Linked DNA regions of Homo sapiens: region 1 is linked to region 2. Evidence: fine-mapped expression QTL. A gene starts in region 2. The other region holds a variant in brackets. All regions are shown on one strand. Distances are between the middles of the regions.

What was found. PIP is the estimated chance that this variant, and not a neighbour inherited with it, causes the effect.
Region 1: its variant is fine-mapped to the expression of CRK in tibial nerve (GTEx, PIP 0.98). The same link has a PIP of 0.9 or more in esophagus mucosa, subcutaneous fat and sun-exposed skin.

The regions. Positions count from the first base shown.
Region 1 is chr17:1,416,183-1,424,510 of GRCh38, reverse strand. It overlaps CRK (CRK proto-oncogene, adaptor protein), which reads left to right. Exons shown (of 3, transcript NM_016823.4): 3 at 861-3,818. The coding sequence ends at 998. Among named protein-coding and RNA genes, the nearest start is that of CRK-AS1, 4.2 kb to the left of the region's middle. The variant TCCTTTG/G (reference allele first, on the strand shown) is at 3,218.
Region 2 is chr17:1,450,929-1,459,248 of GRCh38, reverse strand. CRK (CRK proto-oncogene, adaptor protein) reads left to right here and starts at 3,017. Exons shown (of 3, transcript NM_016823.4): 1 at 3,017-3,372. The coding sequence starts at 3,132. RefSeq lists silencers at 2,709-3,208, 3,299-3,358, 3,469-3,598 and enhancers at 2,863-3,848, 4,983-5,484.

The DNA of each region.
Region 1 (8,328 bases), 35 kb after region 2:
AGGTGATAGGAACACTTGATTCTCTAGGACCAAGTGACCTATGCTTGCCATGATCGCTTTCTGCTGTGCAAGCAGTAACAGGCCAGGTCTTGTGCGAGTGGGCTGGGGGATTGTGCTGCTGCCATATGCTAAAGCGGGGAGAAGGCGGCCAGGCACAGTGGCTCACGCCTGTAATCCAAGCACTTTGGGAGGCCAAGGCAGGTGGATCACAAGGTCAGGAGTTCGAGACCAGCCTGGCCAAGATGGTGAAACTCCATCTCTACTAAAAATACAAAAATTAGCTGGGCACGGTGGCAGGCGCCTGTAGTCCCAGCTACTCGGGAGGCTGTGGCAGGAAAATTGCTCGAACCTGGGAGGCAGAGCTTGCAGTGAGCTGAGATCACGCCACTGTCATCCAGCCTGGGTGACAGAGACTCCGTCTCAAAAAAAAAAAAAAAAAAAAACGGAGAAAGCTGCTTCTCCTCGGACAGGGCCTGCGGAGCAGGCAGAAAGCTGAGGGTAGTGAGTACAAAGAAAGGGAATAGTAGCTAACTCACTGAAGTTGGGATTGCTCATGCAGAGACAGCTGAGATTTCCAATAATTATCACTTTCCTTTTTTAATCAAAAAGTATCATTATCTGGAATCCCTTTTACTTTCTGTATTCTCTGTTTTTCCACACTGCTAAAAACACTTTTCCTTCTGCCTGCATTAACCACAAGTAATCAGTCTGGTGGCTGGGGCTGGGGAGGCAGCAAATGGCCATTTCTGTAATATCCCTAGAGCAGTCACATGGGCAGGGTGTGCCTAACCAGAGAATGGAGTTGTTCAGCTTGCATTCCTACCTGGAAATAAAGTGCTCTCCTTATTCTCCTCCTGCAGGTCGGTGAGCTGGTAAAGGTTACGAAGATTAATGTGAGTGGTCAGTGGGAAGGGGAGTGTAATGGCAAACGAGGTCACTTCCCATTCACACATGTCCGTCTGCTGGATCAACAGAATCCCGATGAGGACTTCAGCTGAGTATAGTTCAACAGTTTTGCTGACAGATGGGAACAATCTTTTTTTTTTTTTTCCAACTGCCATCTATACAATTTTCTTACAGATGTCAAAAGCAGTCTAGTTTATATAAGCATTCTGTTACCTGTGATATTTTTTAGACTGAACTGCTCCATTCCTAGTCTTAATTACCATATTCAGGGTACGAACTGGAGGGCTTGTGTGTTAGCTTCTGAATTGGCAATTGGAGGCGGTAGTGGTCGTGCCTGTGTGTATCAGAAGGGATAGGTATCTTGCCTCCTTTCTCTCAGGCAGTGCAAATCACCCTGTGGAAAACCGATGGACAGGAAGGAGTGTTACACACTGCTTACCCTGATTTATTCAGTGGTTTTGTTTTCATTCTGGAACCATACTATCAAATGGCGACAGACTGTTCCGTTCCACCCCCGTGAAGTAATCATGCACCGTGTGAATAGTATCAAGCAGGATTGCTTTCATTGTATGGAGCATGACCAGCGTGTGACTCATTCTGACATTTCAGATCCTAAGAATTCTAAGAACACTACTAGAAGCATTTGTTCCCTCCTAGTCAATGCTTCATACTTTTTCTTGGGATTCTTTTAGCCCTTGACATTCTTGTCCCCCAAACCTGTAAGTAGGTGAATTCCTAAGATAAGTGTGTATTTTCATTCCAGGTGAAAAGCAGGATGTACCGAGCACTTTATTCAGTGCATAGCTTTAAGCCAGTGTTGGATTCACTAAGTGGACAGCCAGTCTCCCAGCTCTCTGCCTTCCCCAAAAGGGTCGTAGTAGGTCACCCTTCTACAGCAGCTAACTAGAGTCCTAACTAATGGGATCCAGCAGGGCCATTTCTCCAGAGGGCCAGTATCCTATTAGGAGACTCTTGGAATTCTTAGGTTCTACTCAAGAGTGGAAGGACCAATCACCTCTGATATTCTGTGGAAGGTTTTGGGGTCAAATTCTGCCCTCTGCATTCTGTGCAACTTGTATAAAAGTCAAGTTAGTATTACATGAATTTGGGGTAGGGTTAGTGCTTTGAAAAAATGTTGAACCGGCTGGGCGCGGTGGCTCACGTCTGTAATCCCAGCACTTTGGGAGGCCGAGGCGGGTGGATCATGAGGTCAGGAGTTCGAGACCAGCCTGGCCAACATAGTGAAACCCCATCTCTGCTAAAGATATAAAAAATTAGCCCGGCGTGGTGGTGCACGCCTGTAATCCCAGCTACTCGGGAGGCTGAGGCAGGAGAATTGCTTCAACCTGGGAGGTGGAGGCTGCAGTGAGCCGAGATCGCACCACTGCGTTCCAGCCTGAGCGACAGGGCAAGACTCAGTCTCAAAAAAAAAAAAAAGGAAAAAAAAAAGAAAAAAAAATGTTGAACCAATTGTGAATTACTTATGTATTATTCATTTCTCATGGGGAGAGTAATGCTGTTGAAGAACATTACATTGTAAACTGCCTTCATTTTTGGCTCTTTGTTTATGTTCAGGTTTAGTTTACAAACCCATTTAAGTATGGAATGATTTATATGGGGTCAGGTGCTCCACAAAATAGACCTATGAGACCAAAAATGACCTAGGCTATTTAGACGACAGCATGAAACTTCCACGTTAGTTCTCAGTCTATAAAGGCACTTACCGGTCTCTGGTGTGGTATGACCAATAGAAACACCTTATAGTTTGCTTTGGACCTCATTTTGGAAAAATAATCTGCCTTTCTAATTGTTCTGCATAGGTTAAAATGATAAATTTACATTCTTTGAACCTATACCAGATTGTGGTGTCCGAGTGACCGGCACACTGTCTGACACACAGTCAGTGTGCACGTATTTGTCTGAGTGAATGAGGAGACCTGAGAAACCGGTGACGTGGCACAGGGAAGCCAGCTGGCCCAGGATTCCGTACATGGCCGCAAGCAGACTAACGCGTTGACGCTAATTTAATGTATTTTACCTCACACTAAGGTCATGCTTGATAAAGACGTTAAACTCAACTTGTAAAATGGTAGCCCAGTGCTATGCACAGAGTGGGTGCTCATTAGTGTTGAATGAACACATTTGTAATACTACATGTAATTCCATCTGACTGCTTTGTTAAATTTTCAGTTAGAACGTAGATACTGTAAAGTCCACACACACATTAAATCTTGTTTTCCTGAAAGTATGGCATCAAAAATACTTGTAGAAAAACCTTGTCACAACTGATTTGAATGTTCCTATTTTCTTT[TCCTTTG/G]ACTTTGATATTGGCTTGTAATGTCTCTTTTCATCATATGTAATATCAGTGGAACAGGCAGCGCTACTCAAGTCCTAAGGATTCCTCAGTGATCAGTGATCCAGGGCCGTTCATGAACCACTGGGCTGGATTTGACTGTTGAGTGTGGCAGTTAATGCCCCTCAAGAAATCAAAGGATGTCTTATAAGTGTCTTCCAAAAAAAAGCAAATGCTGAAATCCTATTGGCAAAGTAAACTGAAATTGGCTGCTATATTTTATATAATCATTTCTGCAAATCCCATTTTTTGAATACTAATATTTGACATGGTTAATTCTTATTAATTTGTTGGAATTGTTTATTGTTAATAATGCAAATAGATAATTTTTAATTATCCACAAGTAACATTTCACTGTTAATGGTTTGAAATAGGTGATAAGCAAACCAATTTGAAATAAAATATAAACATGTGCCATTGTATTATAACACTATACACTTTCTTGACAGTTAAATTTAAAAAAAAATTTTTTTTGGTAGCATGTATTGTATATGTTTATAGTATATGTAGTAAATAAAAATATGGCCAAATGTTTGGCTTGGTGATCTTTTGCAAAAAAGTAATCTTTGAATATTTTTCACAAAAGAACTAAATCTTTTTTTTTTTTTGAGACAGAGTTTCGCTCTTGTGACCTAAGCTGGGGTGCAGTGATGCGATCTCGGCTCACTGCAACTTCCGCCTCCCACGTTCAAGCAATTCTCCTACCTCTGCCTCCCGAGTAGCTGGGGTTACAGGCATGCACCACCACGCCCAGCTAATTTACTGTATTTTTAGTAGAAATGGGGTTTCACCATGTTAGCCAGGCTGGTCTCAAATTCCTGACCTCGGGTGATCCGCCTGCCTCCGCCTCCTAAAGTGCTGGGATTACAGGCTTCAGCCACCACCGCACCCAGCGAGAGGTAAATCTTTATGCTTAGGGGATAGGAGGTATGTGCCTTCAGCAGCCTGCAGTCATATAATTAGATAAACAATTATACAAGCTCAGTGGGTGCTTATTAAAGATGGGATTAGGCCGGGTGTGGTGGCTCATGCCTGTAATCCCAGCACCTTGGGAGGCAGAGGCGAGCGGATCAGAAGGTCAGGAGTTCGAGACCAGCCTGGCCAACATAGTGAAACTCCGTCTCTACTAAAAATACTAAAATCTGGCTGGGCATGATGGCTCACGCCTGTAATCCCAGCACTTTAGGAGGCTGAGGTGGGTGGATCACAAAGTCAGGAGATCGAGACCATCCTGGCTAACATGGTGAAACCCGGTCTCCACTAAAAATACGAAAAATTAGCCGGGCGTGGTGGCACGCGCCTGTAGTCCCAGCTGCACGGGAGGCTGAGGCAGGAGAATCGCTTGAACCCGGGAGGCAGAGCTTGCAGTGATCCAAGATGGCACCACCGTACTCCAGCCTGGGCAACAGAGCGAGACTCTGTCTCAATTAATCAATCAATAAAATACAAAAATTAGCCAGGCGTTGTGGCGTGCACCTATAGTCCCAGCTACTCGGGAGGCTGAGGCAGATGAATTACTTGAACCTGTGAAGTGGAGATTGTAGTTAGCCGAGATCACGCCACTGCACTCCAGCCTGGGTGACAGAGCAAGACTCCATCTCAGGGAAAAAAAAAAAAAAGATGGGATTAATCAATGGTGATATATATAGACACAGATTTTTTTTTAATTATTTATTTATTTATTTTTGTTGAGATGGAGTTTCGCTCTTGTTGCCCAGGCTGGAGTGTAGTGCTGCGTTCTTGGCTCACTGCAACCTCCACCTCCTGGGTTCAAGCAATTCTCCTGCCTCAGCCTCCCGAGTAGCTGGGATTACAGGCATGCGCCACCATGCCCGGCTAATTTTGAATTTTTAGTAGAAACGGGATTTCTCCATGTTGGTCAGGCTGGTCTGGAACTCCCAACCTCAGGTGATCCGCCTGCCTCAGCCTCCCAAAGTGCTAGGATTACAGGGATGAGCCACCGTATCCGGCCTTTTTTTTTTTTTTTTTTTTTGGCGGGGCGCAGGGTGGGGGGCGGGGACGGAGTTTCACTCTTGTTGTGCAGGCTGGAGTATAGTGGCGCTATCTCAGCTCGTTGTAACCTCTGTCTCCTGTGTTCAAGCGATTCTCCTGCCTCAGCCTCCCGAGTAGCTGGGATTACAGGCACGTGCCACCATACCTGGCTAATTTTTGTATTTTTAGTAGAGATGGGGTTTCACCATTTTGGCCAGGCTGGTCTCAAACCTCCTGACCGCAGGTGATCCACTTTGGCCCCCCAAAGTACTGGGATTACAGGCGTGAGCCACCGCGCCTGGCCTCGTGATTTTTTTTTTTTTCAAGACAAAATTTTCCTCTTGTGCCCCAGGCTGGAGGGCAGTGGCGTGATCTCAGCTTACTCCAACCTTGCCTCCCGGGTATAAGCGATTCTCCTGCCTCAGCCTCCCGAATAGCTGGGATTACAGGTGCACGCCACCAGGCCCTGCTAATTTTTGTATTTTTAGTAGAGATGGTGTTTCACCATGTTGGCTAGGCTGGTCTTGAACTCTTGACCTCAGGTGATCCACCCGCCTCGGCCTCCCAGTGTGCTGGAATTACAGGCGTGAGCCACTGCGCCCGGCCTCTGGCCTGGTGATATTTTTAAAGGTCTCCATGAGTATGAGTCATAAAATACTGATTTGAGGGGACCATAAGAATCATATAAAGGCCTGAAAGCAGGCCAGGTACAGTGGCTTATGCCTGTAATCCTCGCACTTGGGAGGCCTAGGTGGTGGAATCATTTGAGATCAGGAGTTTGAAACCAGCCTGGCCCACGTGGTGAAACACTGTCTCTACTAAAAATACAAAAAAAAATTAGCTGGGTGTGGTGGTGTGCGCCTGTAATCCCAGCCACTTAGGCCGCTGAGGCAGAAGAGTTGCTTGAACCCAAGAGGCTGACGGTGCAGTGAGATTGTGCCACTTCACTCCAGCCTGAGCGACAGGGTAAGACCCTGTCTGAAACAAAACCCAAAACCAAAAAAAACCCTGTTGAATGGCGTGTTCTTTTATATAGTCTACAGTATTCATACCAGCTGTCGTATTTTATGACCTGGACTTCCAGGTTAAATTCTGTTCCTCTTACAGGTATGAAAAGATGAGAGGGGGCCGGTATAGAAGAAAATGTGAAAATAACCATTAACCCTGCTAAGTTTGACAGGGAGAGGCGGAGAAAGTGGCGTGCTGTTGCCACCCATGTTCTGAAGACTGTGAAATGGGAGATAAGGTAGAGGCAAAAAAGAACCTTTAGCCATCTAGAAGTGAAGCTCAAAAACAGAGCAGGCCGGGCGCGGTGGCTCACGCCTCATCCCAGAACTGTGGGAGCCCGAGGCGGGTGGATTATGAGGTCAGGAGATCGAGACCATCCTGGCTAACACGGTGAAACCCCATCTCTACTAAAAATACAAAAAACTAGCCAGGTGTAGTGGCGGACGCCTGAGTCCCAGCTACTCCGGAGGCCGAGGCAGAGTGGCTTGAACCTGGGAGACGGAGTTTGCAGTGAGCCGAGACCACGCCACTGCACTCCAGCCTGGACGTCAGAGTGAGACTCCATCTCAAAAAAAAAAAAAAAAAAGCCAGGTGTGGTGGCAGGTGCCTTTAATCCCAGCTACTCGGGAAGCTGAGGCAGGAGAATCACTTCAACCGGGGAGGCAGAGGTTGCAGTAAGCTGAGATCGCACCATTGCACTCCGGCCTGGGCAACAGAGCGATACTGTCTCAAAAATAAATAAATAATATAAAATTAGCCGGGCATGGTGGGGGATGCCTGTAATCTCAGCTACTCAGGAGGCTGAGGTGGGAGACTCTCTTGAACCTGGGAGGCAGAGGTTGCAGTGAACCAAGACCACACCACTACACTCCAGCCTGGGCGACAGAACCAGACTCCGTTTCAAAAAGCAAACACGCAAAAAATCTATGATACTTAGAAAAAAGGAATGAATGTGATGAGTGTTGTTTTTTTTTTTTTTTTTTTGAGGTGGAGTTTTGCTCTGTTGTCCAGCCTGGAGTGCAATGGTGCCATCTCAGCTCACCACAACCTCCACCTCCCAGGTTAAAGCGATTCTTCTGCCTCAGCGTCCCAAGTAGCTGGGATTCCAGTGCGTGCCACCACGTCCGGCTAATTTTTTGTATTTTTAGTAGAGATGGGGTTTCACCATGTTGGCCAGGCTGGTCTTGAACTCCTGACCTTGTGATCTGCCCACCTCAGCCTCCCAAAGTGCTGGGATTACAGGCGTGAGCCACCATGCCCGGCCCTTTGTTTGTTTCTTTTGAGAGACAAAACTCACTGTTGCCCAGGCTGGGATGCAACAGTGCAACCCGGACTCAGCGCAGCCTGGACCTCCGGGACTCAAGCAATCTGCCCACCTATGCCTCCAAAATAGCTGGGACGACAGTTGCGCACCACCACACCTGGCTAGTTTGTTAATTTTTGGTAGAGATGAGGGTTTTGCTATGGCTGCTCTTGAACTCCTAGGCTCAAGTAATCCTCCTGCCTCAACCTCCCAAAATGCTGGGATTATCTGTGTGAGCTGCCATTCCCGGCTGAATGTGATTTTTTTTGTTTTTTGTTTGTTTGAGATGGGGTCTCACTCTGTTGCCCAGGCTGGAGTGCAGTGGCGTGATCTCAGCTCACAGAAACCTCCGCCTCCTGGACTCAAGCGATCCTCCCACCTCTCAGCCTTCCAGGCAGCTGGGACTACAGGCGCACACCACCATCCCCAGCTAATTTTTGAGGTTTTTTAAAATTACTATTTTTTAAGAGATGGGGTGTTGCTATGTAGCCCAGGCTGGTCTCAAAGGATCCACCTGCCTTGGCCTCCAAACATGCTGGGATTACAGGCCTGAGCCACCACGCCTGGCCAAAGTGAGGTTCTTGATCGTATTTTCTTTTTTTCTTTTCTTTTTTTTTTTTTCCGAGACAGAGTCTTATTCTGTCACCCAGGCTGGACTACAGTGGTACAATCTTGCCTCACTGCAACCTCCGCCTCCTGGGTTCAAGAAATTCTCCTGCCTCAGCCTCCCAAGTAGCTGGGATTACAGGCGCCCACCATCACACCC
Region 2 (8,320 bases):
TTTTTTTTTTCTGAGACGGAGTCTCACTCTATCGCCCAGGCTGGAGTGCAGTGGCTCGATCTCAGCTCACTGCAAGCTCCGCCTCCTGGGTTCACCCATTCTCCTGCCTCAGCCTCCTGAGTAGCTGGGACTACAGGCGCCCGCCACCACGCCCAGCTAATTTTTTTTGTATTTTTAGTAGAGACCGCGTTTCACCGTGTTAGCCAGGATGGTGTCGATCTCCTGACCTCGTGATCCACCTGCCTCAGCCTCCCAAAATGCTGGGATTACTGGCGTGAGCCACAGCGACCAGCTGACCTCATCTCTTAAAAAAATGATGATTATTATTTTAGAGAGGTGGTCTCACTCTGTCACCTGGGCTGAAGTGCTGTGGCATGATCATAGCTCAATACAGCCTCGAACTCCTGGGCTCAAGTGATCCACCCGCCTCAGGTTCCTGAGTAGCTGGGACTATAGCTGGATGTGCCACCACGCTCGGCTATAAAGAAAAACAATGTTTTTTGAGATGGAGTCTCGCTCTGTCGCCCAGGCTGGAGTGCAATGGCGCGATCTCACCTCACTGCAACCTCTGCCTCCCGGGTTCAAGTGATTCTCCTGTCTCAGCCTCCCGAGTAGCTGGGACTTCAGGCACCTGCCAGCACATCCGGCTAATTTTTTGTATTTTCAGTAGAGATGAGGTTTTGCCATGTTGGCCAGGCTGGTCTCGAACTCCTGACCTCCTGGCCTCCCAAAGTGCTGGGATTACAAGCATGAGCCACTATGCCTGGCCAGAAAAAATTTTTAATTAAAAAAAAATGAGCCTGGCCAATATGGTGAAACCCCGTCTCTACTGAAAATACAAACATTAGCCGGGCGTGGTGGCGGGTGCCTGTAGTCCCAGCTACTCGGGAGGCTGAGGCAGGGATAATCGCTTGAATCCGGGAGGCGGAGATTGCAGTGAGCCGAGATCACGCCACTGCACTCCAGCCTGGGCAACAGAGCAGGAATCCATCTAAAAAAAAAAAAAAGAGAGAGAGAGACTGTGGCCCAATTTTATGCTCTGAGCTAAACTGGGAGTTTGAACACCTGAAGACTGTTAAAAGTTTTACACAAGGTAGCAACACATTCAGATTTGTATACATATATATATATTTTTGAGACAGGATCTCCCTCTGTCACCCAGGCTGGAGTGCAGTGGCATGATTTCGGCTCACTGCAACCTCCGCCTCCTGGGTTCAAGCGATTCTCCTGCCTCATCCTCCTGAGTAGCTGGGATTACAGGCGCCCGCTAACACACCTGGCTAATTTTTGTATTTTTAGTAGAGACCGGGCTTCACCATATTGGTCAGCCCGGTCTCGAACTTCTGACCTCAGGTGATCTGCCAGCCACAGCCTCCCAAAGTGTTGGGATTACAGGCATGAGCCACGGCGCCCGGCCAGATCTGTATTTTAGAAAACTCAGTGGGAGTTGTTTGCAGTGCGATTAGGGGCAGCCAGACGAAAGAGCACCAGCGAGCACGACACTCGTAGGAACACAGTCCAGAGGCAATCATGAGGGCAGTGAGAGTAGGAGATGCCCCTGGCTACAATTTAGTGTTTAGAATTATCTGGGCAGGTGACCCCAAAGCCTCAAAAGAGAAGAGAACTCTGTACTTCACGTGGCTTGGTACACTCTGCTCCCTTTGCTTTGAATGTCCTTCCCCGCCGAGTGCGGTGGCTCACGCCTGTAATCCCAGCACTTTGGGAGGCCGAGGTGGGCGGATCTCAAGGTCAGGAGATCGAGACCAGCCTGGCTAACACGGTGAAACCCCATCTCTACTAAAAATACAAAAAGTTAGCCGGGCGTGGTGGCGGGTGCCTGCAGTCCCAGCAACTCGGGAGGCTGAGGCAGGAGAATGGCGTGAACCCGGGAGGCGGAGCTTGCAGTGAGCCGAGATCACGCCCAGGCACTCCAGCCTGGGCGACAGAGCGAGACTCCATCTCAAAAAAAAAAAAAAAAAAAAAAGAAAGAATGTCCTTCCCCATTTGTCATTCAGCAGTCAACACATGCTGCCTCCTCTGGGAAGCCCTCCTGGATTACTCCATAGACTGGCTGTGGGGGCTCTGCTCTGTGTTCATGTCCGTTTCCCATGATAGCGTTTGTCAGCATTTGTCATCCTTTTGTCATCCAGTTTCCTGGTTCCTCTCACTGGTCTGTGAGTTCGAGGAGTGCAGGGCCCAGCCATGATAACCTTTGCACCCGCAGTGCAAGTGGAGTGTCAACAACAATGTCCTAGGTGAATCAATGAAAATGAGAACGTCAGCTGGTCTGTGGAGAAGCTAGAGGAACGAGCAGAAACGGACCGACGTGGCCGGGCGCGATGTTTCTCGCCTGTAATCCCAGCACTTTGGGAGGCCGAGGCGGGCGGATCACCTGAGGTCAGGAGATTGAGACCATCCTGGCCGACATGGTGAAACCCCCGTCTCTACTAAAAATACAAAAAACAGCCGGGCGCGGTGGCTCACGCCTGTAGTCTCAGCTACTCGGGAGGCTGACGCAGGAGAATCGCTTGAACCCGGGAGCAGTGAGCCGAGATCGCGCCATTGCACTCCAGCGTGGGCGACAGAACAAGACTCCGTCTCAAAAAGAAAAAGAAAAAAGAAACAGACTGATATCGCAGGAAGCCTGGCCGAGAACTCAGGCCCCAGGGCCACACGCATCTTTTCTCCTCCAATTCTGTCTGGGAGTCGCTGCCTAGAAGTCCCAGGTCGTCCAGGAACCGGGGCCCAGACGAGAAGCACCGCTCTGTCCGCAGCGCAGGCGCGCGTCTCTGCGGGAGGCTGCGAGGCCCCGCCCCTCGGGCCCTAGACCCCGCCTCCCATCCCCCGCAGCCCGGGCCCGGGAAGGGCGGCACCGCCCATGAATCCGCATGCGCAGTGCGCGCGCGAGGGCGCCTTGCCCTTCTCCCAATGGCGGGCCGCGGGCCCCTTCCCGGCAGCCTCCCTCGGGCAGGGAGCGCGTCATTTCCGGAGGGGGAGGCCCGCGGCTGCCGCCGCCATTTCGGGCGCTGCTGTGAAGCTGAAACCGGAGCCGGTCCGCTGGGCGGCGGGCGCCGGGGGCCGGAGGGGCGCGCGCGGCGGCGGCACCCCAGCGTTTAGGCGCGGAGGCAGCCATGGCGGGCAACTTCGACTCGGAGGAGCGGAGTAGCTGGTACTGGGGGAGGTTGAGTCGGCAGGAGGCGGTGGCGCTGCTGCAGGGCCAGCGGCACGGGGTGTTCCTGGTGCGGGACTCGAGCACCAGCCCCGGGGACTATGTGCTCAGCGTCTCAGAGAACTCGCGCGTCTCCCACTACATCATCAACAGCAGCGGCCCGCGCCCGCCGGTGCCACCGTCGCCCGCCCAGCCTCCGCCCGGTGAGGGACTGACGGGACGGCGGGCCCTGGGCGGGGTGAGGGCCGCGGAACTCCCAGCCTGGCTGGCTGGTCCTCGAGAGCGGACCCTCGGGGGTCGTGGGCAGAGGGCTGGGTGACCGTGGCAGGGGCCCGCCGGCTGCTCGGGCTCGCTCTCACCCGGGGAGCAGGAGTGTGGGGGAGGAGGAGCCGCGGACCGAGGCCCCGGGGTGTGCCTGGGGAGGGCAGCCGCGGGGAAGGGGAACTGCTTCGGCCCCAGGGTGGGGCTGGCTCCCGGGCCAGGCGCAAGGGTAGGGCAGGGCAAGGCAACGTGGGGACAAAGAGCTGAGGGAGATGTTGGCACTGCGGGGGCATCACTTGGCAGCGGCGCCCAGAATGAATCCGATAATCCTACAAGTGGCTTTTAGGCTGGAAACGTTTCCTGCCGTGTTGGAGAGCCGGGTTTGGCCGTGCTCCCCTGGTGGCCTTTGGTAGGAAGTCACCACATACTGGCCGGGAGGGATGGAGACACCCTCAGGAAACCGGTCAATTTTTTCCTTTCTTGGGCATTTTTCCAAAATCTTTGTACCGTTCTCTTCCCCCGTGGAGGACGAAGGTGGTGAACTAAGTGCTAGAAGAAATAGTGGTAGCAGAAAGCCTTCAGTGACCAGCCCAACCCAGTTTAAGGCGATGCCTGGCTATGTGCAAGAGATCTAAGCGTCCAGAAGACTGTCCGCCGTTAGAGAGTTCTGGTTTTCAAAGTGTTTAGTGGAGGAAAGACATTTTATTCCACAAAATAAACCAGAAGTGAGGCAATGGAAACAGACCCTTCCCTGTAAGTGACTGGAACTTCATTTTCCTTGGACTTAAACATTGTCGGTGTGTACTTCAGGGCGTCACCTTGCTCAGTAAGATGGGGCTGCGGGCTGAGTCTTCCTGGATATTGGGAACAGACTCTACGCCAAGAACATAAATTACCTGCGCTGGGTTTTCCTTGCCAGGGAGGGATCCCTGAGATTGACTGTCTTACCGATGCCGTTGGAGTTGATTTGGGACTGTTTTAAGGGAATAGATAGATGCCCTTAGTACTGGAGATTTGTGAGGTACAAAGTAATTCTGGGGTTCTCATTGTATGTGTACCTGTGTAACAGCATCAGGAGTCCTCGTGCCTTCACGCTGTTGCCAAGTCGAAGCAGTTTCTTCTTGGCCAGCTGAGAATGGGTTCAGACTAGTCTCATATGAATCAGGAAGCTCTTGAGCCGTCCTTTGTAGACTTGCCCTTGTAGAATAGTTCTAATTTAGATTTACTCGCTCCGGCCAGAAATAGAGAATTGGATAGGCAGTCTCTTTGTTAACACACACCAATTTTTATTTTACTCTTTTCTAAGACGGAGTCTTGCTCTGTCACCCACGCTGGAGCACAGTGGCGCAATCTCGGCTCACGGCGATTCTCCTGTCTCAGTCTCCCAAGTAGCTGGGATTACAGGCACCCGCCACCATAACCAGCTAATGTTGTATTTTTCGTAGAGACGAAGTTTCACCAGGTTGGCCAGGCTGGTCTCGAACTCCTGACCTCAGGTGATCCACCAGCCTCGGCCTCCCAAAGTGCTGGGATTACAGGCAAGAGCCACCGCGCCTGGCCAACACATACTAATTTTTTTAAAATTTTTCTTATTTATTTCTTACTTATTTATTTATTTTGAGACGGAGTCTCTCTGTCGCCCAGGCTGGAGTGCAGTGGCGCGATCTTGGCTCACTGCAACCTTTGCCTTTTGGGTTCAAGTGATTCTGCCTCAGCCTCCTGAGTAGCTGGGATTGCTGGTGTGCATCACCACCACGCCCAGCTAATTTTTTGTATTTTTAGTAGAGATGGGGTTTTACCAGGTTGGCCAGATTGGTCTTGAACTCCTGATCTCAGGTGATCCACTCGCCTTTGCCTCCCAAAATGCTGGGATTACAGGCGTGGGCCACCGCACCCAGCTTTGTTTGTTTGAGGCGGAGTTTCGCTTTTGTTGCCCAGGCTGGAGTGCGATGGTGCAATCTCAGCTCACTGCAATCTCTACCTCCCCGGGTTCAAAGGATTCTCCTGTCTCAGCCTCCCTAGTAGCTGGGATTACAGGCACACTCCACTACGCCTGGCTAGTTTTTGTATTTTTAGTAGGGTTGGGGTTTCGCCAAGTTGACCAGGCTGGTCTCGAACTCCTGACCTCAGGTGATCTGCCCACCTCAGACTCCCAAAGTGTTGGGATTACAGGCGTGAGCCACCACACCCAGTCTAACACAACCATTTTTTAAAAATGAGTATGGGGTCTATAAGCTCACAAATTATCCTAGATCTTTCTCATTGTGGCCTGTTTAATAGTATTATGAGATGGGAATATTGATGTACCTGTGTTGGCCCTGAACCAGATATATTCTACTTTGATGCCACCTGCATAGTATCTGGGGTTTTGCATTATATGTCGTCACATGATGGCAAACTGTCATTGAAACTCACTTTTCAGCCTTTTGTTTGTGTTTGTTGGTTGCCAAAGTTGAAAATGGCAGCAGGCAGGTTTGTTAGTTTGATATTTTTTCATATCTTAGCATAACGATTTTATGTCTCAACACTTACCGTGATAATCGAGCACCACCTTTTCAAAACAGATAAGAACTCAGTTCCTTGGCTGAGGAAAGACGGTGAAGATTGCCAAAGTTTATGGATGGGGTGTGGAAAATTCACGAGTATTGTGATAATTCTTTCTGCCATGTTGTACCCCATTTTCTACGATTCAGTTGCTGTCTTTTTCTCTCTTCTGAGACAGAGCCTCTGTCACCCAAGCTGGAGTGCAGTGGCATGAACACAGCTCACTGCAGCCTTGACCTCCTGGGCTCAAGCCATCCTCCCACTTCATCCTCCTGAGTAGCTGGGACTCCAGGCGTATCCACCATGCCTGGTTAACTGTTGAAAATTTTTTTGTAGAGATGAGGGGTCTCACGGTATTGTCCAGGCTGGTCTCAAATTCCTGATCTCAATAGACTTCATGCTTCAGGCTCCCAAAGTTTTGGAACTGCAGGTGTGAGCCACTGTGCCTGGTCAGTTGCTGTCTTTTTTTTTTTTTTTCTTTTTGAGACCGAGTTTTTACTCTTGTCTCCCACGCTGGAGCGCAATGGCGCGATATTGGCCCACTGCAACCTCTGCCTTCTAGGTTTAATCAATTCTCCTGCCTCAGCCTCCTGAGTAGCTGGAATTACAGGCGCCCACCACCATGCTCAGCTAATTTTTGTATTTTTTTAGTAGAGATGGGGTTTCACCATGTTGGCCAGGCTGGTCTCGAACTGCTGAACTCTGATCATCCACCCACCTCGGCCTCCCAAAGTGCTGGGATTACAGACGTGAGCCACCAGCGCCTGGCCTGTCTGTATAACCTCAGAATTACTTTGTACCTCACAAATCTCAAGTACTAAGTACTGAATCTTTGTTCTCCCCCTCACCAAGTCCTTTTGAAGTCACACAGAGAAATTTCTTGAATTTTTTAGAGAGGCGTATAGAATATTAATAACTAATGTTTATTGACTGGTTATTCTGTGCCAGGTACTTTGAGTACTTTATGTACCTTATTTCACTTACTGTCTAGGACAATCTAGTGAGATAAGTAATATGATCTCCATTTATTAAAATATTCCCATTTTATACAGGAGGAAACACTCATAGATTCAGTAACTTGCTTAAGGTCACACAACTAATAAATGACTTTCAGAAGTTGAACCTAGGCATTCTGACCTGAGAGCTGACCCTTTTACACTACACTCTCAAAGCCAGCGTTCTTTTGGCATCTCAGCAGTGCACATAGAGGTCCGTATCCTCAATATCCTCAATACTTTGCCTCTGCCCTGGAGTCTAAGACTTGGTGTTTTTTGTTTTGTTGTTTTTGGATGGAGTTTCGCTCTTGCCCCCCGGGCTGCTACAGTGCAGTGGTGCAGTCTCGGCTCACTGAAACCTCTGCTTCCCAGGTTCAAGTGATTCTCCTGCCTCAGCCTCCCGAGTAGCTGGGATTACAGGCATGTGCCACTGTGCCCAGCTAATTTTTTTTTTTGTATTTTTAGTAGACACGGGGTTTCACCATGTTGGCCAGGCTGGTCTCGAACTCCTGACCTCAGGTGATCCGCCCACCTCGGCCTTGTGTTTTTTGTTTTTTTTTCCCCCCACTATGTTGCCCAAACTGGAGTGCAGTGGCTGTTGACAGGCACAGTCATAGTGCACTACAGCCCTTAACTTTGGGGCAGGCAGCCCTTCTGACTCAGGCTGTGAGTAGCTGGGACTACAGGCACATACAGCCGCATCCAGCCCAGGTTTTTTAAAGACCAGAATTAAAGAATGGCAAGAAGAGGCCGGGCGCAGTGGCTCATGCCTGTAATTCCAGCACTTTGAGAGGCCAAGGAGGGTGGATCACTTGAGGTCAAGAGTTCGAGACCAGCCTGGCCAACATGGTGAAACCTTGTTTCTACTAAAAAATACAAAAATTAGCTGGGCGTGGTGGCGGACGCCTGTAATCCTAGCTGCTGGAGAGGCTAAGGCACGAGAATCGCTTGAACCCCGGAGGCAGAGGTTGCAGTGAGCTGAGATCGTGCCACTGGCTTTATTATTCAGACAATACACATCTGCTATCTAAAGTCAATGATGAAGAAGCTTTTTAAAATTGTTATTGCTTTTTTTTTTTTTTTTTTTGAGACAGTTTCTCGCTCTGTCACCGAGGCTGGAGTATAGTGGCACGACCTCGGCTCACTGCAAGCTCCGCCCCGTGGGGTTCATGCCATTCTCCTACCTCAGCCTCCCGAGTAGCTGGGACTACAGGCGCCCGCCACCACGCCCGGCTAATTTTTTGTATTTTTAGTGGAGATGGGGTTTCACCGTGTTAGCCAGGATGGTCTCGATCTCCTGACCTTGTGATCTGCCTGCCTCGGCCTCCTAAAGTGCTGGGATTACAGGTGT